3 linked regions of the Homo sapiens genome follow. The protein of the gene in region 3 interacts with the protein of the main gene of each other region in a pairwise test. Each region holds a gene or a part of one and is shown on either strand. Other genes may lie near its edges.

Region 1 (7,574 bases), on a different chromosome or scaffold from region 3:
CCTGTCATCCCAGCCCTTTGGGAGGCCAAGGTGGGCAGATCACCTGAGGTCGGGAGTTTGAGACCAGCCTGATCAACATGGAGAAACCCCGTCTCTACTAAAAATACAAAATTAGCTGGGCAGGGTGGTGCATGCCTGTAATCCCAGCTACTCAGGAGACTGAGGCACGAGAATCGCTTGAATCCAGGAGGTGGAAGTTGTGGTGAGCCAAGATTGTGCCATTGCACTCCAGCCTGGGCGACAAGAGCAAAACTCCATTTCAAAAAAAAGAAAAAGTCCTCACTATTCATATATAACTTTTGAGTATCTGGAAAAAGCTTCCAGCTCTCCTGCCAACAGGAATTAATTTTTTTTTTTTTTTTTTTTTGAGATGGAGTTTTGCTCTTGTTGCCCAGGCTGGAGTGCAATGGTGTGATCTCGGGTCACCAGAACCTCTGCCTCCCGGGTTCAAGTGATTCTCCTGCCTCAGCTTCCCAAGTAGCTGGCATTACAGGCATGCGCCACCACGCCCAGCTAATTTTGTATTTTTAATAGAGGCGGGGTTTCTCTATGTTGGTCAGGCTGGTCTGGAACTCCCGACCTCAGGAGATCCGCCTCCCAAAGCGCTGGGATTACGGGCGTGAGCCACCGTCCCCTGCCAGGAATGCTTTTTTACATACAATTTCAGGAACCTTATAAATTCCCTGAAGCCTATCACTCAGGATGCCCAAGGAATGCCTCAGGCTCAGGTGGAAAAATAACAAACCAAAAACCTAATGGAAAGACGCTGAGACCAAGTCCAATGAATGCAAATGCCTGACTCTCTTGCCTATGCCCATGACAAGAGCCCCAAGCACTGCCTCACACACCAGCACACCCCCAGCAGGGGCCACCAGTAATGGCAGTAATCATGCCAGACACTGAACAGGTCGTGGGAATGGGAATGGTCTGGGGCCGTGGGTACATGGCCAGACTGGGACACGTCCTCAAGGCTGTGCTAGGAGCCAACTGGCGCCTGTCCACCAGGCTGCCTGGGTGAGGCCAGTGCCTGCCCACTCTCCATTGACAGCACCAGCTCCAGCTGGGGAGGAGGCTGCGCTGGGGTCTGGTCCCCACTGCCCTTCAGAGCTTCTACAGCGCCAGATTAGAACTGAAGCAGGCTGCAGCCACAGGGAGATGTGAGCTTCCTGCCCCTTGCCATGCCCTGAGCTCTGCTGAATGAACAGGAGGGCCAGGGCCTGGCTTGTCTACTCAAGATTTCCCTCTCAGGTGTAGGTGAGTTACCCACAGCCCAGGCTCAGGGCACTTCAAACCCACTGTCCAAGGGAAGGACCCCACCATCAGGCTGAGCCTTCCTGTGCCTGTCCATGACCTCGGCCCTCTGGAAGTCCAATCCCAGAGCAAGAAATGGAGCAGATTCTTTCTCTGGTCACAGTGGCTCCCACTCCCCCTGGGGCTCATGAAAGGTCCTCTGGGCTGGGCGTGGTGGCTCACACCTGTAATCCCAGCATTTTGGGAGGCCAAGGCAGATGGATCCCTTGAGCCCAGGAGCGCAAGACCAGCTTGACAAATATGGCGGAGCCCTGTCTCTACAAAAATACAAAAATTAGCCGAGTGTGGTGGCACGTGCCTGTAGTCCCAGCTACTTGGAAGGCTGGGGAGGGAGGATCACTTGAGCCCAGGAGGTTGAGGCTGCAGTAAGCAGAGATCACGCCACTGCACTCCAGCCTGGGTGACAAAGCGAGACCCTGTCTCAAAAAACAAAACAAAAAATACTCACAAAAGGTTGTCTGAAGGCCTAGGGAGCCCTTGGCTTGGATGGAGTGGGAGTGTAAGACTAGAACAGACAAATCACAGTTGTTGTCATAAAGAGTTAAGAGTATATATTCTAAAACTACAGGGATCTAGGTTCAAATTCCAACTTATTCACTTACTAGCTCTGTGACGTTGGCCATGTTACTTAATCTCTCTAATCCTATTTTCTCATCTACAAAGTGGGGATAAATAATAGTCTTTTCCTCATAAGGTCAGAGGAAGATTACCTGAAAGAATGCCTAAATGCCCAGCTAATGTCAGTGACACTTCCCATTATCTTGTCACAGGGTCTGTTATCACTGTAGCAAAGTGGGTGGTATCATTGCCTGCCCAGTCCCGAGGGCTTTGGGCTTGCAGAAAGAAGAGGAGGCAGTTCCCTTCTTCCCAGGATCTCAGTTCTTTATCTTAGATTCCCAAGAGAGCTCAGCCTAGGAAGTTTTCTTAGACTAGCTGGGGTCTCCAGGACAAAGGTTGTATTCACTAGGGTAGAACAAATAAAATAAAATAAATACAAATTAAAAAAAGAAAAGGAATGACGGGTGGGAAGATGGCAGGGAAACCTCCCACACTGTTACTCAGCACTGTGCCTTCTGCTCTTGGGGTTCCTGGTTCTCCTTACAAACTGGAGAAAAGAGACTGATAGACAAAGGCTAAAGCAAGAAATCTGGGATGGGAAAGGGGGAAAGAAAGAAAACAGGGAGGTGGTAGATGAACAGTGAGTATGAGGTGGAGTGCAGCCTTCCAACTACAAGGATGTTTCTATCAAAAAACAAAGGTCCAGTTGAGGCAACTGTGGTGGCAGCCATCAGCCAAAACTCCAGATTCCCCTTTCCTTCCAGAGCCCCCTTCCCAGGATACTCACACGTCCTCCATACACTCCGGAGGCTGTTTCAGGCGGTTCCCGCCAATGAGGTAGTTGTAAATCTCAGCGTTTTCGATGCCAGCATATGGCGTCTGCCCACGTGTCATGATCTCCCACATGGTCACCCCGAACGCCCACTGGGACAGAATCGAGGTTGGGGGAGAAGCTGTCACTAGGTGTCCTGAGCCAGGCAGAGAGCCATGGCTCTGAGACAAGCACAACCTGGGGCTCAGGGCCTCATCAGGGGGCAACCAAACCCCAGAGAGCAGACTTGGCTAGGCCCTTAAGGATCCTAAAGGTCTGCTCTCACACTCGTCCCCACCAAGCTTCACGGGCCACCCTGCTCACCACGTCACTCTGCACAGTATACAGGTTGTCGGCCAGGCTCTCCAGGGCCAGCCACTTGACAGGCAGTTTGGAGGCACAGCCTTGACGATAGTAGTCCCCACTGTAGATCTTCCGGGAGAGTCCGAAGTCAGCCACACACACTGTCATGTCCTCTGCCAGCCTACAAGGGGCATTGAGGGAGAGAGTCAGCCTTCTGCCATGCTCACAGGCCCACAAGAGCCAGGACATCTTTGCATCTTTGCTCCCAAGCTACCCCCATGCATAGCAGATACTGTCCCAGGCAGGAGCCGACCATCAGCTAGCTCCTCTTGGCACCTGCTGCTGTCTCCCACCCTCGAGTCCTCCAGAATTCGTACATGCAATTCCGAGCAGCCAGGTCTCGGTGGATGAAGTTCCGAGAGCTCAGGTACTCCATGCCGCAGGCAATGTCCACCATGAACCGGATCAGGGTCTGGAGGGGTAGGTTCTAGTGGACAGACAGGCCAAGCTCAGGCTTAACCTGCCCACCCAGCTGGGGCAGGATGGATGGGGGTCCCTGGCCAGAAAGCCTGAAGGCTGTCCCCAGAATCACTGGAAGGAAGGAAGGGGATGGAGGGCCTTCCCAAGGCAAGGAAGCTTCGGCTAGCCTAAGAGGGAGCCTGGAAGACGAGACTCCCCCACCCTGGGGCTCCACAAGTCCCTCCCTCTAGAAAGGGCCCTTGCCCAGCCTATATTTCTCAGCAGGGTTTTGTGAGAGAAAAGAAAGCCTGCTAGATTAAAAGGATTCAAACTCAGACCCCTCCTACTCCCACCCAGCTCCATCAGCCCTACCCAGCAAGCCCCTCTCTGCCAGGGTCTCTATGCCTTTCCAGGCCCTGTGTTCCCACCCGTTTCCTCCTGGCCACCCCCACACCAGGTACTCACAAAGGGGTTCTCCCCAATCCGGGAGGCGAGCAGGAAGGCATGCAGGTCCCCATGCTTCATGAAGGGCAAGATGACCATGGGGATGGGGAGACGGCCTTTAGCCCTGCTCCGGAGGCTTACCCCTGGGACAAGGGAGAGTCAGGAGCTGAGCATAGAAGGGTCAAGGGGCAGTTCAGGTGTCTGCATAAGTCCCCACCTGCTGGGTCCCATCTCTAGCTCTGGCTCTGCTATTTATTTTTTATTTTTTCACAGGCTCCACACTGGTCTGGGGACTACCCAGGAGGGACTCTGGCTGCTCCCATATCCCTGGAGCATCTTCTGTCCCCTTCCTTTCCTTCTCTGTCCACACAAGCAGTCTTTGTTTTTTCTGAAACAGTATCTTGCTCTGTCATCTAGGCTGGAGTGCAGTGGCGCAATCACAGCTCACTGCAGCCTCAATGTTCTGGGCTCAAATGATCCTCCCACCTCAGCCTCCCGGGTAGCTGGACAAAGGTGCACACCACCACACCTAGCTAATTTTTGTATACGTGTGTGTGTGTGTATGTTTTTTGTTTTGTTTTTTTTTTTTAAATAGAGGTGGGCTGTTGCTATACTGCCCAGGCTAGTCTCAAACCCCTGGCCTCAAGCAATTCTCCCACCTCAGCCTCCCAAAGTGCTGAGGTTATAGGCATGAGCCACCACATCCAGCCACACAGTCTTCATGTGCAGACCTTTGGCACTCCTCACCTCAGATTTCTGCCAGGACCCTCCTTGCTATTTTGCCATCTATTTATTTACCAGATGAGTCCAAAAGTCTCTCCTATAGGCTGCCATCTCATATTGGTAGAGCATATTTTTAGCCCTATTCTCTATCTGCCTCCCCCAAAAATGGGCTCACCAACAAGTTTGGCCACGTGTGGATGGTCAAACTCCTTCATGCAAGCTGCTTCCCTGAGGAACTCTTCAATGTCGCTTGAGGCAATGATGTCAGCTAGGAGAAGGGGATGGGGAAGGAGGAAATAAAACAAGATGTGCCCCTAGTTTTGACCCAGGCCTCCTAGGTCTTGTCCTTCAGATGTCCTAGGCTTCCCAGGGAGCCCAGGAAACAGCCCAGCCATGAGCAGGAGAAACCCCCAAGGAGTGGTGATACTTAGCAACTTCTCCACTTGCTAATGCCTTCCCTTCCCTTTGGTTTGGGCAGCCCAGCAGGTCAACCAACCACAGCTGTAATCACCCAAGAGGGGACTCAGAGGACAGTCACTGCCGATGGCAGAGAGCAATGGCTGGGCATGAATATGTATGTTTGGGTTTATGCTTGTGAATTATTCGTGTGGTAAAGAGCATCCCAGTTAGTGCTGCCCAGCTCTTCTTGGAAAATCTAGGGGCAAAGCAGAGCCTGCTTCAGGGTCAGTCGCCCCTCTTACCCTTCCAAGTGATGCCCTCAGGCTACAGCTATCCCCCACTCACCTTTCAGCATCTTCACAGCCACTTTCACAAAGGAGCCATCCTCTTGCTTCAGCTGGGCCTCCCGCACTGAACCAAACTCTCCTAGGAACCAATCCAAGTAAGGGAGAGTCTCCTTGGCTCTCTGCTCCCTGCCAACCTTCCTCCCAAGTGACCCTCCATGGGAACACAGTCAGCAGACTCTGGGGCCAGTGGAGAAGGCACCCTTGCCAGTAGCCAAAGCAAGAGCATGCTGGGAGCAGCTCCTCAGCCCTCCCTGTCTCCAGCCACCATTCCCCACAAACATCCCACACTCAGGAGTCTACAAGCATATCTTGTTTACGGCAACCGACCCAAACCCACAGCCTCAAAGTGACAGGGGCAACCAAACACTTCCAGCTACAGCAAACCAGCCATGCCCATCCCCACACAGCCTCACATACCTTTGCCCAACATCCGGCCCAGGGTGAACTGCTGCTCTGGGATGAGCACATCCTCCAGTTTTTCCTTTAGTTCATCGCTGATGCCCAAGCTGTCCACTGTGGGGAAAGGGTTTGTGGGAAAGAGGGATCTCTGATTCCTGAGCCAAAACCCAGCCTCTTATACCCCAGACTCTGCCCTCAGAGCATAGAGATGAGCTTAGGTCTCCCACGGCTGGGGTGGTGAACTCCACACAGGCAGATTTGTGTGCCTGGGGCTCACTGATGTTCAGACATATCAGTCAAATTAATAATTTGGTAAAAGAATGCAGATGGGGCACAAGACAGCCCATTTGTCCTTCCCACGATCACCCACCACTCACATGTGGCCTCGATGCGCTCGGGCCTTTCTCGATTGAAGGACCGGGCTGCCCGGAAGTGAACGGCTGGCTCTCCCCGGGCCATGACACTGTCAAAGGCTTGCCTAAAGGAAAACCCAGGATTTGGGGTCAGCTCCAAGGTCTTTCATCATTACCTGCCTCTCCCTCCACATCCCCATCCCCTTACCCAAACCGCGTCTCTTTCCGTCTCTTTCGAAGCAGGATGAGGGCCAGGGCAGCAGCCGTCACCAGGGCCGTTAGCACACCAAGGACCACAGGTACCCAGGATGTGCGGCTGTGAGGAGGGCCCTGCTGGCCTGTGGGAGGGAGGTGCAGTGGCATGAGCTAGGATGACACCATGAGGTCCCTTCAGAACTTTCCCAGGATGGCCATCCAGCTGGTTCAAGGGGCTCCTCTAGGTCAATAAGGGTCCTGAGGGAAAGGGGCTCCAGAGGAATGCCTAAGAGTCCTTCCTACCTGGTCAGAGACAGGCCCTGGCTGTTGTGACCTAGAGGGTGACCATGGATTTCTATGCCAGTTCTGGGGCAGAGAGAGGAGAATGAGATATAGTTTGTTTGAGACACAGTCTTGTTCTGTTGCCCAGGCCAGAGTGCAGGGGCACAGTTGCAGCTCACTGCAGCCTCAACCTCCTGGGCTCAAGCAATCCTTCCACTTCAGCCTCCCAAGTAGCTGGGACTACAGGTGTGCAACATCACACCTGACTAATTTTTAAATTTTTTTGGTAAAGTCTCACTTTGCTGCCCAAGGTGGTCTCAAACTCCTAGACTCAAGCAATCCTTCCACCTCAGCCTCCCAAAGTTGTGGGATTATAGGTGTGAACCACCACTCCTGGCCTTATTTGTTTGTTTCTTTAGAGACAACAGACTCACTCTGTTGCCCAGGCTGGAGTGCAGTGGTGCAATCATAGCTCACTGCAGCCTCAAACACCTGGGCTCAAGCAATCCTCCTGCCTCAGCCTCTGGAGCAGCTGGGCTTAACAGGCATATGTCACTACACCAGGCTAATTGTTTTTTTTTTTTTTTTTTAATTTTTTTGTAGAGACAGAGTCTTGCTATGTTGCCAGAGCTGGTCTCAAACTGCCGGCCTCAAGCGATCCCTCAACCTCCCAAAATGTTGGGATTACAGGCATGAGCCACCATGCCCAGCCAAGATAGTTTAAACAGCCCTGGCCTCAACTTCTTCACTCTGTCTGTGGGTCTACTAGGAGGGGAGATGCTACTAGGCTCCTCCCATCAGTCTAGGTTGCCCTTGAAAACCTTGATCCCCTGAGCCTCTGCCCCTCTCCACCTACAAGCCTCACCTGCACGGTCATGAGAAGAGACCACCAGTGGCTGACTCCAGGGTCCACAGCCAACTGCATTGGAGACGCACACACGTACGATCAGGTCCTTTTGGGGATCCCAGCCTGTCAAATTGGCCCTGGTC
Region 2 (7,679 bases), on a different chromosome or scaffold from region 3:
GCATGAATGCCCCGAGGAATTAAGAAAGTCTGCGCTTTTCATTCTAAATGCTAATGGAGCTTCGCTTCTATTAGCCGCGAGTTTCGAGGGCCAGGGGTCAAGCAAACAAAAGGGCACAGCGATGAGAAGGCTGGCGCTGGAAGCAAGGGGACGAAGCGGACGGCGTTAGCGGCTGATGGGACGAGCGGAGGCAGGTCCCCTGCACCCAGAGGGCGGTGTCTTCGAGGGTGGGCGGCTTGGAGGCTCCTGGCCACCCAGCGGCCTAGCGGGGGCACATTCCTGAGGGCGCCGAGCGCAGCTCCGGGACCAGCGTCTCAGCCCACAGCCTCAGCGAAACTTTGTAGCTGAAAGCGCAGCTCAGCAGGCCTCAGGGAAGGAACTGGGTGCCCAAACTCCGGCCTATAGCGCCCCCTTTGCCCGGGGTGGGCGCAGCTCGAAGAGTGGGAACAGGGACCGAAAAACCCCAAATCAAACCAAACCAAAAACCTCCGAGGTGCGCGGGGCCACGAGGGTCATCTCCTGGCGCCCCTGAGCCCGGGGCTTGCCTGCAGGAAGAGAGAAAGGGACTCGGGGCTCCCAGGTCCAGGAAACCCTCGACGACCAGGAAATGGGGGATTCCCTTGCCACCCCCAGCCCCAGCTGGAGCTGCTCGGACGGAAAGCTTGCGCTCGATGTAGCGCGGGTAGAAGCGGATCTTCCCACGGCTGTAGCACGTGCTTCCCGTCTCCCCGCATCTTCAATGGGGGTCTCCAGCAATCCCCCACCCGCCCCTTCAGTGGGTGCCCGCATTCCCGTCCCGCATTCCCTGAGGGCCTTTCAAGCGGAGTCGTTCTCTGAGAGGAGGCCTCAGAACTCGGGTGGGCGGGGACCGCCTCTCCCCAACGAAGGAGTTCCCCTCGAGCGCCCAGCGTTCGCGGGAGGGACCCACACAGCCTTTCCTCCAGCCCAGCCCAGCGCCCCGCCGCTCTCTCCACCCCACAAGCGGCCGGTTACCTAGGCAAAGCCTCAGTGCCTGGAAACACGTTCCGCCGCTCCTGCTTGCGGCCGCCGGGGCCGGGAGCACAGAGCCTTGGGGTTGTAAATTAGGAAGAAATAACTACCTCTGTCAAAGCCCCTTTCTTTCTCGTGGGCAGACGAAAGGAACACCCCCGTGTTCCCCTCCCGGTGGTGAAGTGTGTGGAGGAAACCGTGAAACGCACCATTGTGACCGGGGCTCCTCTGCGGAGTTTCCAACCCTGGGGAGCGGGGGCGGAGGTTGGGCGGGGGCAAGAGGAGCGAGGGAGAGACTGACAGAAAGGGAAAGACTGAGATTCTCAGAAAGACCGAGGGAGACTAGACAAACCGCGGGGAAGAATTTCTGTGAGCGCACGGTCCCAGGCAAAGGGGTGGATGGGTGCCGGGGGGTGGGGGGCGGAGCGGACGTGGAGGTTGCTGTGGCCTAAGGAGGCTTTGATACTAACTCTGCGAGCATCTTGTTCAGCGAAAATAACTCGAATAAAGTAACTTCATTCATTGTGCCCATCAGCCACGTTAGGCAGCTTTTTCTTTCCCTAACTTGATTCTATAAAATATTTCCCGGTCGTGGGAAAAGGAGATCCGGCACTGGACTCGCGATGGAATGACGGCTCCCTGTTCTTCTCTCCCAGCACCACAAGGCCCTGGGATCACAGCCCGACATTTCTGATTACTAACTCCTCGCAGCTCTTCCCTCTGGAGAATCCGGACGCATAAATAAATAAAAGGCAATCTCCAAGAACGTTTTTGGAAATCAAGGGACAAATGCGTTCTTCCTCACCACTGCCCCGAGGCTTCCAACAGGTTGGAGAGGTGCCTTTGGAAGTCAGTCTCCGCAGGCTGCGCTCGCATGACCGCTCTCGTCTCACCACCGAGAACTTTCATTTCTACTAAGAGTAAAACACTCGGAGCAACTTCTCCAAAAGCGCGAGTTCTGTCCGTGAAAAAGCATGCCTTTCCCACACCGAGCCAACGTCCAGAGGAGAGGGACACCGTCCCCACACGTGTCAGTGTGCGGGAGTCGCCAATTACACCCGATTTACCTCCTAAGGGAAAAGTGTAAACCGGCATGTCAGCGACGACAGGCAGACGTGCCTAGTGGAACCCCAGGCTCATTTCAATACAATAAGCCACATTCCTACAATTACGCCCTCTTTCCTGAGGTCCTCCGAGTGCGTCTGCAAACTCTGGCCGTCGCTGCCTAGGCCCTTCCCTCCTAAGCTTCCTTCCAGAGAACCAGCTCGGTGCCACCATTAGCAACATTTACTTGGACCCACCAGAGCTCCTATTTTCAATCCTACTTAAAAGGCAGGAAAATTACTGCCGTTCATCACCGGAGCTGCAACTCCCTGCCGCTGCCGCTGCCGCCGCCGCCGCCGCCGCCGAGAGCATCATTACCATGACAACTAGAGCCGAAATACCCTGAATTACATCGCTGGAGCCGCTATAGCACAAATCCCGGTCCTCCTCTTTGTTAGAGGCTTTTCGCCTCTTCGAGTGGGGGGAGGAATCCCACGAGCTCCAGAGATCCCCGCGGGCCCACTACAGGGGAAAAGTTTCAGATCAGAACCTACGGGCCGCTGGGCTAGCAAAGCCGGAGCCGGGCGGCAAGGTCAGGGGAGGGAACCCCACACTCAAAGTTGTCAATTTCAGGAGCGACGCTTCCCAGCAAGCCAACTTTTTTAGCAAGTCCCCTTATTAACTGGGCGAATCTCATACGTACTTGAGTGCTGTGGCGGTTCCGTCTTTAGAGCGAGTTTCTAGAGAGCTGTCCCGAAATCTGCACTGGGGGGGAGTCACAGCTGCTGTCCCGGAAGGGCTGCGGTGTACAAGCCCAGCGGCTCCCGGAGGCGGTGAGCGGCTGGTGGGGGATGCTGCGATCCCGACTCATGGGAGAGCACAGCCGAGAGGTTCCGCGGGCGTCCTGGCTTGGGCTGTGACCAGGGGGGAGGATGCCGCCGCTGTTCCCACCTCCACGGCCACTGCCGGCACCGTCAGCGTTGCAAAGTGAGCCCGGGAGGGGCGTCCAGCTGCGGCGCCGCGCTGCACCGGCAAGGGCTCAGGGCAAGAGGGGTGTGAGCGCGCGGGAGAGCGAAGTGTGTGTGCGGAGCCTGTGTGCGCGCTTGTGTCTGTGTGTGCGAGTGAGGGAGCGGGTGTGAGCGCGTCTGTGTATGGGGAGCGGAGGAGGAGCAGGAGCTGGAGGGGTGGGGGGCGGGAGGCAGGAGACTCCGCTCTCCCGGCTGCGCGTTCGCTCGCTCTCTCGGCACGTCATTTATGCCACAGGAGCCCTAGCGGCCTCTCCATAGAGTGCCTGGAATGCGAGACGTCAATGTGACGCCATGGGACGCTACGTCACCCTCCTCCTCCCTCCCCTGGCCCAGCCGGTTCCGCGTGTGCGAGGGAGGGTGTGTGTGTTCGTGTGCGCGCGCGCGCGCGCGCGTTCCTCGGCCAGTCGCACGGCCGCACAATGGAAACTCCGCCGCACGGCCGGCCCCGGCCTGGGGGCTTCTCTTTTTGCAGCGGAACCGCTCGCCAGGGCGTGCGTCTGCGGGAGGGTGCAGCGGCCTGCCCACGGGTCAGGCGGGACCGCCCAGCTGTCAGGCTCGGGTGGAGTAGAGTTGGAGGAGTGCTGCTGGCGCGCCTCCGAGGCTGCCCCGAGGCACGGAGCCAGGGCGAGGGGGGTAAGGGAGAGGACAGCTCTTCCGAAAGGGAAGGCTCCGCCAGCCAGCTTCTGACCAGCTCCAGTGACCTGGCAGCCGGTGCAGAAGGCGTCTGGCACCAGCCCGAAGACGCCCTGAGGTGCAGCTGCACTTTCCTCTTGCATAGGTTCTAAAGCTGTTTACGTTGCTCCGGTCCTCTGCGCCCAGGCTAATCCCCCCTCCCCGCATCATTTACTGGGTGCGTGTTTCACACAGGGATGCAGATGGTTCCGGGGATAAGGTTTGATTTCTTTACACGTACGGCGTGGGTTTCTTAACTGGACACGTTATAACCCAGCGAAGTGCACATCCATCATGCACACGCGCGCTGCAGCAGAAACTACTCTGTGTGTAAAACAAACACACACGTGTTGAACAGCTGAGCGGGTCTGACTATTGCAAATCATTCCTCCTCCCCGGCACCGGGTCAGAAATGGAACTCTCAACTAGCACTTTCACTTTTTGATGGTTGTAGATGCCCTCCGCCCACATCTCCCAAATTAAACATTTCGAAATCAATCAACAGGACTTATTAGTCAGTCCCTCGCTAGGGGATTTGCTTTGGTCTCCTCGGACACATTTGTCATGAAATGGTGTGCCGAAAGCCTGGGTGACTGTATGAAGGAGAGCAATTTCTTCCTGGAAATGATAAATTTAAGTGTAAATTTCTTGATGAAAACAAAATTTATCAGAGTTAAAGACCCCTAGTCCCAAAGGTTGCTGCTGAGTGAACGCAGTCTCTTTCAGAAATGAATTTTTGGACAGGAGAAAATATTTGAGTGAAACAATGCAGATAGAGTGGTCCCCATGTGGTCCGCTTGAATCACAAATACCGTTTTATATGTTTGACCTGTCCCAATTTGTGTGTGTGTGGCGGGGGCGGGGGGCGCTGCGCCGAGGGGAGATACAAGATTCCTTTGTAGACAGCACACATTTCAGAATCGAAGAAGGTTCGAGCTAGGACCAGAAACTTGAAAACAAACTACATATAGGTAAATATGGCATGTATATCTTTCTTCGCCTCCACTTCCAATTCAGACACGGTGGTGCGGAGAGGATCGTGGGAGAATGCCCCGAAAGTTGACCCAGCCGAGAGCAACCGAGTCTCTGCACTGCGGCGGGTTCCAATCCAGCCTCGGAAGGAAGGAGGGCGCTGCTACATTGTATCCATTCAAAGGCTTGAAGGGGGGGAGCAGGACCTGGAGCCGCGCGGCGCTGACGCACGCGAGGCGCGTGATTGACGCAGGCGATGTTACTAAATTCGGCGGTTGGCCGGGACCCGCCGCCGGCGCGCGCCGCAGATAGCGGAGTAGGTTCCCCTCGGTCACCCCCGCCCCTTCTCCATTCAACGCCGCGCGGGGCGGGGCAGGGCGCGCGGGGCGGGGCGGGGCGGGGCGGGGAGCGCGCGGCCGCGCCAGGATCCGGCCGAACCAAATATAGTCGGGCCTGGCTATTTTTAGCCGGGTCTCGGGCGCGAGCCCGCCGCGTGAGGGGGCGCCCTGACCCCGCCGGGAGTGCGGAGGGGGCGGGGGCGGAGTCGCCATCTTGGACTCGGTTCGACCAGGTCTGGTGACCGGCGACGAGGGGCCGGGCTCGGCGCCGGGGGTCGGGGTGAGTGGGTGCGAGCCGTGGGAGAGAGGGGGGGCGCTGGCGGCTCTCTTCGTCCGGCGCGGGCTGTGAGAAGTGAGCAGGGCGAGGCGCGGGCGACAGCGGGGCGCGAGGCCCGTGCATGTGTGTGCGCACGGAGGTGGGGAGACGGTGATCCCCGCCCGCCCTGCGGAAGGCCCGGCGGTTCTACCACCCGGCAGCTCGGCCAGCCCCGAGTCGCGTGGGGGCGGAGCTGCCCGCGGCCACCACTTCCTGAGTGCCGGGGATACCCTTCCCGGACGTCACGGAGGAGCCGAGGCGGCGGTGGCGGCCCGGGGCTCATCCTGCACTTGCATCACGGGTGCAGCAGCAGCTGCTCTGCTCCTTTGTGGCTTTTTGCCCCGTTGAGTAACTGCTTTGTTAACTGAAAATACCATGACGGGCCAGTGTGATCACCAGCTCCAGATCTCAAAGAAAGTGAAGCTGTCAGGCAAGAAGAGGGAGACTCCCCCAGCCGGCTGCGATGGTATCTGGTGGGTGGATGTGTAGAGAAGCACTTGACAGTTTCCACGTATTACTTCTTGCCTAACTCTTCACCCCCAAGAAGATTTAAAAATACTTTTATTTCCATGCTGTAAAAATTTCATTTGTGTTCTGCACCTCCCTCACCCCCCTAATCCTCCTTCAATTAAAACTCTCATGTAGAACTGGAATCACTGTAAGCAGGAACCCTAAAATTAGGTACAGTTTTTAGGAAACATGACATCTTTCAATGAATTTATTCAATAAACTACATTTTCTAAATGTTAATATGTATGAAAGGTCCTTGCCCACTCAGGGTTGTTATAAAGCTGCTAAATTGTTCATATGAGTTGGGCTCCAGTGACCGTTTCAAAGCAGTATCCTTGTTTACCTAAATTTAAAACAAAACAAAACAAAAAAACTCTTCTCCCTGGCTGAGAACCTCCAAGCAAAGTTTCCTCTCTTTGAGTGGGTGTGTCTTCTGGACCTCTATCTTGGTTACTTCTGTGCATCCTCCTCCCTTCTCCCCTCCACCTTCCTTTACATCCTTTTCTGTTTTTTACAGCCTCACTCCTTTACATCCGTTCCTTCCTTTACATCCTTACTCCTTTACATCCTTTTCTTCCTATCAAGTGGCCAATATCTGTTCCTGGACTGCTCTGTTAGACTGAGGGCTGTTGTCTGACCTCCCTGAGCCAATCAACTGTTCGTGGCTCAGTGCTTCTCGGGGTAGGAAGGGGGACTGACTGCTGGAGAGGTCACTGAGTGGCAGCCTTTTGAAACTCAAATGGAAATTCATGGAAGCAGAGACACAGCTGTCTCGTAGACGGAGACACCATCCTCTGCTTAATCCTATGTCCCTAAACGTATGCTGTTCTTTAGGTGACCCAAACAGAATTAGTTTTTCTCGAGTCTTTTTTTTTTTTTTGAATTAGTATCTACTGCTCTATTCCTTTTCAAAAGTCGGATTTATTAGAAACCAGGCATAATATTCTGTAAGGCACATGTAATGTGACTATTTCAGTAATCTCAATTTCCTTTTTAAAAAATTTTATTAACTTTTTTATCTCTTCTTTTAGGAAATCAAATAAGACTACCTTAATCTGTGAAACGTTGAAAACTTTCTTGGCTCAGTCCTTTTTCTATAACAGAAGAGAGACATTTATATGTCACTAGTTTACATACACGAAGTTAAGTTTCTGCTTTCATGATGCTTATAGCAGCCAGCCTGTTAAAGAAGTATCTAAATTAACCATTACGGATTCACTGGATAGTTACCTTTCATTTTGTTTTGGATTTGTAGGCCTAATCTGCCTGCAAGAAAGAACTATTTCTCTTAGAAAATAAAATATGAAATTTGGGGGAAACTTATGTGTGATATAAAGCAATTGTTTTAAATTGCTTTAAATGCTCTTCTGATGAAGTAAAGACGTATAATCTTATTGCTTTTACTAATATATAGAGATGATGATTTCTTATTAATGCAAATATTGGGTGAGGAATGGTGAAATAAAAATTCTAAGCCAGAAGTTGTTACCTAGGGTGAAAACAGGAAAGAAAAGTAAAAAATTGTAAGTTCAAGTTTTGTGGAATCAATGTAGAAGTTCTATACTATATTTAAGGTACATATATAAAATTTAGTAACTTCAGCTGACATTGATTTATACACGAGATGTACCTGGCTCAGTAACCTGCAATCATTATAGTAAGTTTCTATCTGACCTACATGCTTGCCATTCGTTATCAATTCCATCATTGCCAGATTAGTCTTCCTAAAATTTAGATTTTGTTATATAACTTCTGGCCTCAAAAGTCTTCAGCAGCTGGATATTTTCTCCAAAATCAAACCTAGAGCCT
Region 3 (7,574 bases):
TTTTTTAAGAAAAATTATTTTAAAAGTAGATTTTTTCCTAGATTTCATGTACTTCTGTGAGTGCAAAAAACTTTTAGTGTACTTTTGTGGGTGCAAAAAGTGTGCAGTGAACATTATAAATTTTTTAATAAAATTGACTTCTAATCTCTGGAATGAAATTACTCAAAGAGTATAAAAATTACGTAAAGGTTCCCCAGTTACTTACGAAGATGGGAATCCCCCATTGAGAATATCCACTTTGAACCCACTCATTCTGCATGCTGAGGCTGAGCCTCAGATAAGCAATTGTAAGGTCTCAATCACTGTTATTTTGTAGCAACTTGAAAGGGGAAGGCATTCCTTTTAACTCACTCAAAGCCATTTTAATGTTAAAAGCCACAACATGCTCTGCAAAACAGAAACTGCATTTTGCAGAGCCAATAATTATGGAATTAATCTTCTCAACCTCTCTACAAAGATCCCCAATTATCTTTGCCGCATAAAATCATGATGCTTTCTAGTTCTTTCTTGGGATAGTATCTTAAAAATGCCCCTGGTGACTCCACTACCCATTTGTTGAGAAATGAAAACCCTCTTTTGTATAAAACTCTTTAAAAACTGCACCTCTATTCTCATAATCCACTGATTTCTCTGTTATTAAAATAAATACAGGCTTCATACTTCATATATATGCTTTTTGTACTCCTTTGCCTTGTGTAAACATCTGACTTAGTTCCTGTGCTTTTCATAGACACTCGTGCAATGGCAGGTGGGTAAGTAGGCAAGGGGCAGTGAATTGTGCTGTGCAAAGTGTTACCTACCTGTTAGTCCCCTCAACTGAGATATCTCTACAGCCTCTGGTTTTCCCTGTTCTTTCATAAGTCTGGTCCTCAGCTCCTAGAACATGTTGCCTTCCATTTTCTTCTCCATATTAAAAAAACAACTAGACGTCAAATGACTCTCCCAAACCTGAATTCCAAAATTCTTCCCACTCAAACGTTTTTACAGATTTAATTTTACAATATTGGACATTAACAATGTGGCACCTATTAATGAGAAGGTTGAAATTTTTGTCTCTGTGTGAATATACCCATTAAAGGGCAAATCAATTCTAAATCCAAATTGGCATCAACAATTTTTATGAGTGTGATGACTTGGCAAAATAATCCCACGGCTTAATTTTCTTATTTCTTTTTTTGGAACAGAGTCTCCTTCTGTTGCCCAGGCTGGAGTGCAGTGGCGCAATCTCTGCTCACTGCAGCCTCCACCTCCCAGGTTCCAGCGATTCTCCTGCCTCAGCCTCCCGAGTAGCTGGGACTAGAGGTGCCCGCCACCACACCCAGCTAATTTTTGTATTTTTAGTAGAGGCAGGGTTTCACCATGTTGGCCAGGCGGGTCCCCTTTTATTCTCTTGAGATTTAAATATTAAGTATAAAATTCAGGGCAAAAACTTGGCATCCTGAAAACAGGCTCATTTTTATAAAAGCAACAACAAACCCATAAGACATTTGACTTGAAAAAATATTCACACCGCACCTTTCGAATATAGAATTCAGAGACCTGGTCCACTGTCTTTGGCCCATAGTGGGAAAAACACAAAGGTCAGTGTCAGCAGGGCACTGATCTTGGGCAAATCCAAATCCTGAATTAGGGACACTGGGAATTGGCTGCAGAAAATCACTTTAAAATAAAACAAGCTATGCAAAAGCTGAAAGGTTTCTTTCAGCTACATGTAGTATAACCTTCAGTGTATGACCTACAACTAAATCAGTACAAGTTCTAAAGTATAAGGAAATAGTCAAAAAAGCTAATTCTAGCAGAATCAGAGTTATAAAAATACTGAGCAAAATAAGAAATTATTTCTTCCTTTGAGAAACTCAGCATTAAGATAGTTAAGCCTACATTTCCAATAAACTTTTTCTGGTAGAAACTGCTATTATAATGTATTATTTATATGCTTTATTTCTCAAAAAGTAGGTTCCAGTGTCATATTGCCGGGGTGCACATAAAAGAAAGATGAGAGAACCTACTATACAGTGACCTTTATCTTAATACAATATTACCAGAACCCTGGAGAATTTAGAGTTTTCAAAAAGAATAGAGAGAAATTCATTTTCAAAGCTTGCATCAGTAAATGAAATAAAAACCCCACAAAAATCCCACAACCTTTATAAATGACATCAGTTTTCCTATCAGGTGACACATGTGGATCAATTTACATTTGAATTTGGTGATCAGAAAATATTGAAGTGTGACCTATGATTTGCAACTGCATAGGGTGAGACAGTACAGCTAAAACACTGGGTAGTCATTGCGATGCTGGGATGGAGACAGAATCCAAGACAACCCTTGGTGAGGAAGGGGTTGAGAGAGGAAGAAAGTAAAGGCAGGACGAAAATAGGCAGTCTTATCATAAGAGAACAATGTGTGCCATTTTAACTGCCCAAAGAGCATTTTTTGTCTCAACTTTCAGTGCTTCTTTAATTAAAATGAAGAGATCAACACATAAACAGAAACTAAATCATTCTAAAGAAATTCTAACTTCTTTATCCTATAGGTTTGATTACAATTTGACCTGGTATGCTATTCATCAAAAAAGGTATTAAATGACTGTTACATAGCTCACACGGTGTTGGGAATAGAGGGGAAAAGAAAAAAGAAAACAGTGTCGCTAGCCTCGAAGGGTTCAATGACTAATGGAAGAGACGAGTGGTTTCATATGATATTATTTCATATTATATTTTACATGATTTAATATTATTGCAGTGTGATGTATTACATTATTGCTGTGGGGTAGATCACTAGAAGTGGTGAGGAGCTTAGATTCTGCAGTCAAGCTGCCTGGCTTGGAGTCCTACTTTTTCCTCTTTCCAGCTGTATGGTCTTGGACAAGTTACTTACACTCTGCTGCTTCAGTTTTCTTATCCGTAAAACAGTGCTAATAAAAGTATAATTCTCACAGTGTTATTGTAAAATAAAATGTGTTATAATATACATAAAGCTCTTCACAGTATCAGACAACAGTTACTGTTCTTGTAGTGATGGTGTGTATAGCAGGCCGTGGGAACATACGGAAGGAGTGATACAGTGTGGGAGATATGAGGTAGGACAGACAGAGAGGGGTTTCCAGTTGAGGTGAGATTTAAATGGAGCCTTGAAGTGGTCCAGTAGGATTTAAACAGGGAGCAATGTTGAAAAAGTGTTCCATACTGTGGAACAGCAGTGCAAACACACAGGGAAAAAAAGCCACCAAGAGTTTGAGGGATTTGGAGAGGTTGATGAGTAGAATCTAGGCTACAGCAGGGAAATTAGATTTTACCCTGAAAACTGTCCTGAATGTCTTTGTGCTTGTGCACCTCATTCTCTTTTTTTCTGCAACAGACTTCCTTCCTCCACTATTAATTTCTCTTTACTTCTATTCAATTCTGTGCTTGGATATAGGACATTCATTTTTATTTATGTTTAACTAGGTCATCTATGTACAGAACAATCCGCATTTTATTTCCTATTATTCTTCAGATGAATCTAAATATTTTGGCCCAGTATTCAAGGCCCTTCCATCCACTCTCCACCGACACATATCTGAATTTGCCTCTTACTAGGATAGCATTTTAGTCATATCTAGCTTCCAATTATACCCATCTCCCTCCTCTTTGCAGACTGTATTCATCCCAATCTCTGATTTTGCTCTGGCAGTTTCGTCTTTGGAATTTCAGTCTTCCCAGATCAATTTCAAGTACTTCTTGAAGAACAGGCAGCTCTACAAGATGTATAGGGTTAGCATCCTGAAGACAAATCTCTTGCTTAACCAAGCCTCATACTATTTTGATAAGCTTCTGCCATCACAATCTCTTGGGAGTTATATTGGGATTTCATAATCATATACTTAACTTTTACCTGCTTTTTCCCCCTTCTCTCTTCACATCGATCATGTCTTTCTTGTGAGCAGAGATTTTGGTTTCTAGATATCCTACTTTCAATTGTAAGTACGTCTACAGTATCTTATCTACTGAACGGTCTGATAAATGCTTGTTGGATGAATATATTTATGTGAAGATTATCTCATAATACAACCTCCCTAATTGACATATCAACATTATTATATGAAAGTTTTATGCATCTTTAATAATTAATGACTTGTTCCTTGCAAGCTGAGTTGGAAGAGAATCAAGATGACAGATTATGGCTAATATTTACTTAGAGTTGTATGGTTCATAGGGATAAGTAGAGCATTTTAAAAAGGTATGAGAATTCTTCATTTGAAAGTCTTTTAAAGTTGAACTTTCATTATAAAATGTAGGCAAAGCCATAGAGGAATTTAGAATTTAGAGTAAATCCCTGGATATTAGAGTTAAGAAGGAGGGGACAATCATTTATTTAATACCTATTGTGTACCCGTCATCACAAGGTTAGTGACTTCAGAGAAATTATATGTTATTAAGAATTTCCAACCTCTCCTCCTAAGGAAAGTGATTATTACAATGGCTATTTTATGGTCAATACCACTATGGATCAAAAAGTTTAAGAACTCCATTCAAAAATTTATATCCAAGTGATGAATTTGGGATTCGAATCCAAGTCTATCTGACCTTAGTGACAAACTGCTTTGAGAGATCATATAGTATGTTAGAATGGCAGCATTTAGAATTAAGATAAATAACTTGACAATTTTGGATAAGTAATTTATACTTTTTTGGTCTCAGTTTCTCATTCTGACACATTTGCCCTATATAGTCTCTAAAACTCTTTATGACTCTAAATTCTTGTTAAAAAAAGTGATATCTATTATTTTAAAAATCACATCAAAAATTTTATGACACAAAAAGCCAGGTGAAAAAGCTGTGCATATTAATGGATCATACATTAGGAAAGAAGTAGTAGGGATTAATTAGATTATAGTAGGGTTATAACGAGAAGGGGTACAGAAATTATTAACTTTTTCTTTAAATACCTCTATATTGTTTGACATGGTAACATAGTTATTATCTTTGTAGTAAAATCTAATAAATAGAGGGAAAACTATAGCATTTTCAATAGTGAGTTAAGTTAGACAATATTTTCTTTATTAAATACAGATTACCAAATTATATAAATCTCAGAAACTTATGTTTTTATTTGTGCTAGTTATGAAACGCTGTTCCTACAATACCCTTTTGTATTCTAGTCTAGATATAAATGCAGGTTAGAAAAGGGTGATATGACTGCTAGAATCAAGTGTGTTGAGTACTTCTACTTACTTCCATTAAGATGACATTAAAAATAGGTAATGTCAAAATATATACAATATTTTAGAGATCATAAAACCATTAATAAATGTACTCTACTCTCAACTATTATTTGGTGTCAACAATGATACTTTTACTAGACTCTCATGCTTTTACTTCTTAATTTTGTGCAATAAAATAATACACGAAAGACAAAAGTCGAGAATAACATGTCTAAGGAAGTTGAATGTCACAATTAAAATTTCCCTTTTGTCCTAAGGAATCTAGTTCCAATGACTGGGTATTCTTGGGTAAATCAGAACTGGCTTGAACCGCTAACCTGGTTCATTCCAGGTTAATAATGAACTAAATACAATTAACTATGAATACACAGATTATGCTAATGATGATCAGTTGAGACCTTTTTTCTACATACTGATTTCTGGCACCATTTGACCCTTGTGGTGAGAGAAGTTGGGTCAGTGCTAATAATGGAAATGTCTTCTCTCATACATAAACACCCACACTGAAAACTAGCTATATCTGCTTTTACCTCTAAGGTTCTGAGCACCTCATCACAGAACTTGGTTAGATGAAATGGGAACATTTTATATAAAGCCATCAGTATGACAGACACTCCAGGCACAAACTGCCATTACATTTAAGGTGGACATTTTTCATGTATTCATACCTTCAGGGTTCAGATCAGGCTTGTAGGATATCCCAATTAAAACTAGCCATTGGGGAAAAGAAAGTTCAATAAGGGATAAAAATGAACTCTAAGCTACTTTGAAAATATGACGCAAGCGTAAAAGAAAAACTAAAAAATACCAGGTAGGCTGAAAAAAATTACAGTCTTTTTTACTACTCTTTACATGGATTGTGATAAAAATTCAGTTCTCTGTGGAATCCTGAAAGCAAAAAATCCAGCGAGCAGAGAACAGAATGGGGATCTTGCTTGACCACAAGTAGGCCCAATGCATTTTCTTAATATGAGGACCACAGCTAAGAAGTATATCTCTGTAGCTTTTCCACACAATAAACAAATAATTCTAGACTATATTGTTAAATGACTTCAAATACAGGCTAATAAGCAACACACAAAACTGACACAATTAAAAAATTAATTTAGGAGACACATACACTATACACAAAATTGTTCCCATCAGAAAACATATTTTGTAATAACAGAGAAGAAATGTTTAAGGGCAAAAATAAAAGGTGTTAGGTATGCCCCAAATACTTCTGGGAAAAAAAATAAAGGTTATTGTGCAACTTAACAAATATGATCAACAAACCAGTTGGCCATTTGTTGACCATGGTGCTACTTATGGTAATTAGAATCAAATTGTATAATTTAAAGGGAAATTTTAAAGTACATTTTTCCAACTCTGACTTTAATGTAGCAATGTACTAAGCACGTGGTATGAAAAGTTGATATTTCAATAAATATGGAGGGTAACGCATACCTTAAATTCCTCCAAGATTTTGTAATTTTTCCCGTGATATTCACAGAAGTTTTTTACTTCTTTGCACTCAGGACAGCATCCATTGTGTTCCACTTTAGTACACTTTGGGTGAATTTTAGGGCATTCTGGTTGGTCGCAAACAGGTCCATCTAGAGCACAGACACATGGACAGTTGGAATGCCCAGGGAAAAATCGTTCTCCCAACTTGTATACAAAGCCGCTGTCATCGACACACCCTTTCCCTCGATAGTCATCAAAGATCAGATTGTCATTACTGGAGATCTGGTCACCTTCATCAGCAGGATAGTCTTCATGACTGATAGCAGCAGAGGTGACCAATCCAGGGATGACCAACAGAAGTATGCAAGCTTCATGAATATGAAGAGCCATCCCCCTCTTCAAAGACTTCTGGATGTGCTCCTAATATTAAATATACTCAGCTCCTTCCATGGGAATACAAGAGGGGTAGGCTGAAAATAAATATTTAAAAAGAATAATTTGACATATATAAAGTGAAGATAGATTCATTTAAGCCCACGCTCTTAAACTGTTTGGGATCAATTTGAAGATACTAAGTCCTCAAATAGACTAAGTTCATGCAACTATCTGTGCCTTATTGTGAGGTTTGGAGAGTTGATACTTGGCAATATATGCATTAAAATTTGTCCTTTTGGATTATTTTATATAGGAACCTTCAGCTTGAATTTTCCTTCTGAATTTCATAGGTCTGGCTTTATCTAAATTGCAAAGAAATGGTTTTACTGAGCCCCAAAATGTGATCCAAGGAGTAACTTACAAATAGCTCAAGAATATTTGAACTCACATTTTCTATTATTCTTTAAACTGGACTAGTCAGTGATGGAACATATGTTATAATTATCTGTGTCAACTCAAGAGATTAGTGAGAAAAAAATCTAATTCT

What was found.
Region 1: the proteins of VWC2L (region 3) and TYRO3 interact in binary tests that used the Homo sapiens proteins (3 or more experiments, as listed by UniProt).
Region 2: the proteins of VWC2L (region 3) and NR4A3 interact in binary tests that used the Homo sapiens proteins (3 or more experiments, as listed by UniProt).

What each region holds. Positions count from the first base shown.
Region 1 is NC_000015.10:41,568,898-41,576,471, reverse strand, and holds part of TYRO3 (tyrosine-protein kinase receptor TYRO3 isoform 1 precursor), read right to left. Parts: coding exon 7,450-7,574; intron 6,446-7,449; coding exon 6,316-6,445; intron 6,233-6,315; coding exon 6,132-6,232; intron 5,869-6,131; coding exon 5,773-5,868; intron 5,435-5,772; coding exon 5,354-5,434; intron 4,878-5,353; coding exon 4,785-4,877; intron 4,030-4,784; coding exon 3,908-4,029; intron 3,471-3,907; coding exon 3,361-3,470; intron 3,165-3,360; coding exon 3,005-3,164; intron 2,794-3,004; coding exon 2,657-2,793; intron 2,275-2,656; coding exon of another isoform or gene 2,241-2,274; exon of another isoform or gene 207-2,240; intron 1-206. UniProt on the Homo sapiens protein: Receptor tyrosine kinase that transduces signals from the extracellular matrix into the cytoplasm by binding to several ligands including TULP1 or GAS6. Regulates many physiological processes including cell survival, migration and differentiation.
Region 2 is NC_000009.12:99,817,466-99,825,144, reverse strand, and holds the start of NR4A3 (nuclear receptor subfamily 4 group A member 3), read right to left. Parts: upstream 3,261-7,679; 5' UTR 2,738-3,260; intron 1-2,737. UniProt on the Homo sapiens protein: Transcriptional activator that binds to regulatory elements in promoter regions in a cell- and response element (target)-specific manner.
Region 3 is NC_000002.12:214,413,662-214,421,235, reverse strand, and holds part of VWC2L (von Willebrand factor C domain-containing protein 2-like isoform 1 precursor), read right to left. Parts: intron 7,123-7,574; 5' UTR 7,043-7,122; coding exon 6,653-7,042; intron 1-6,652.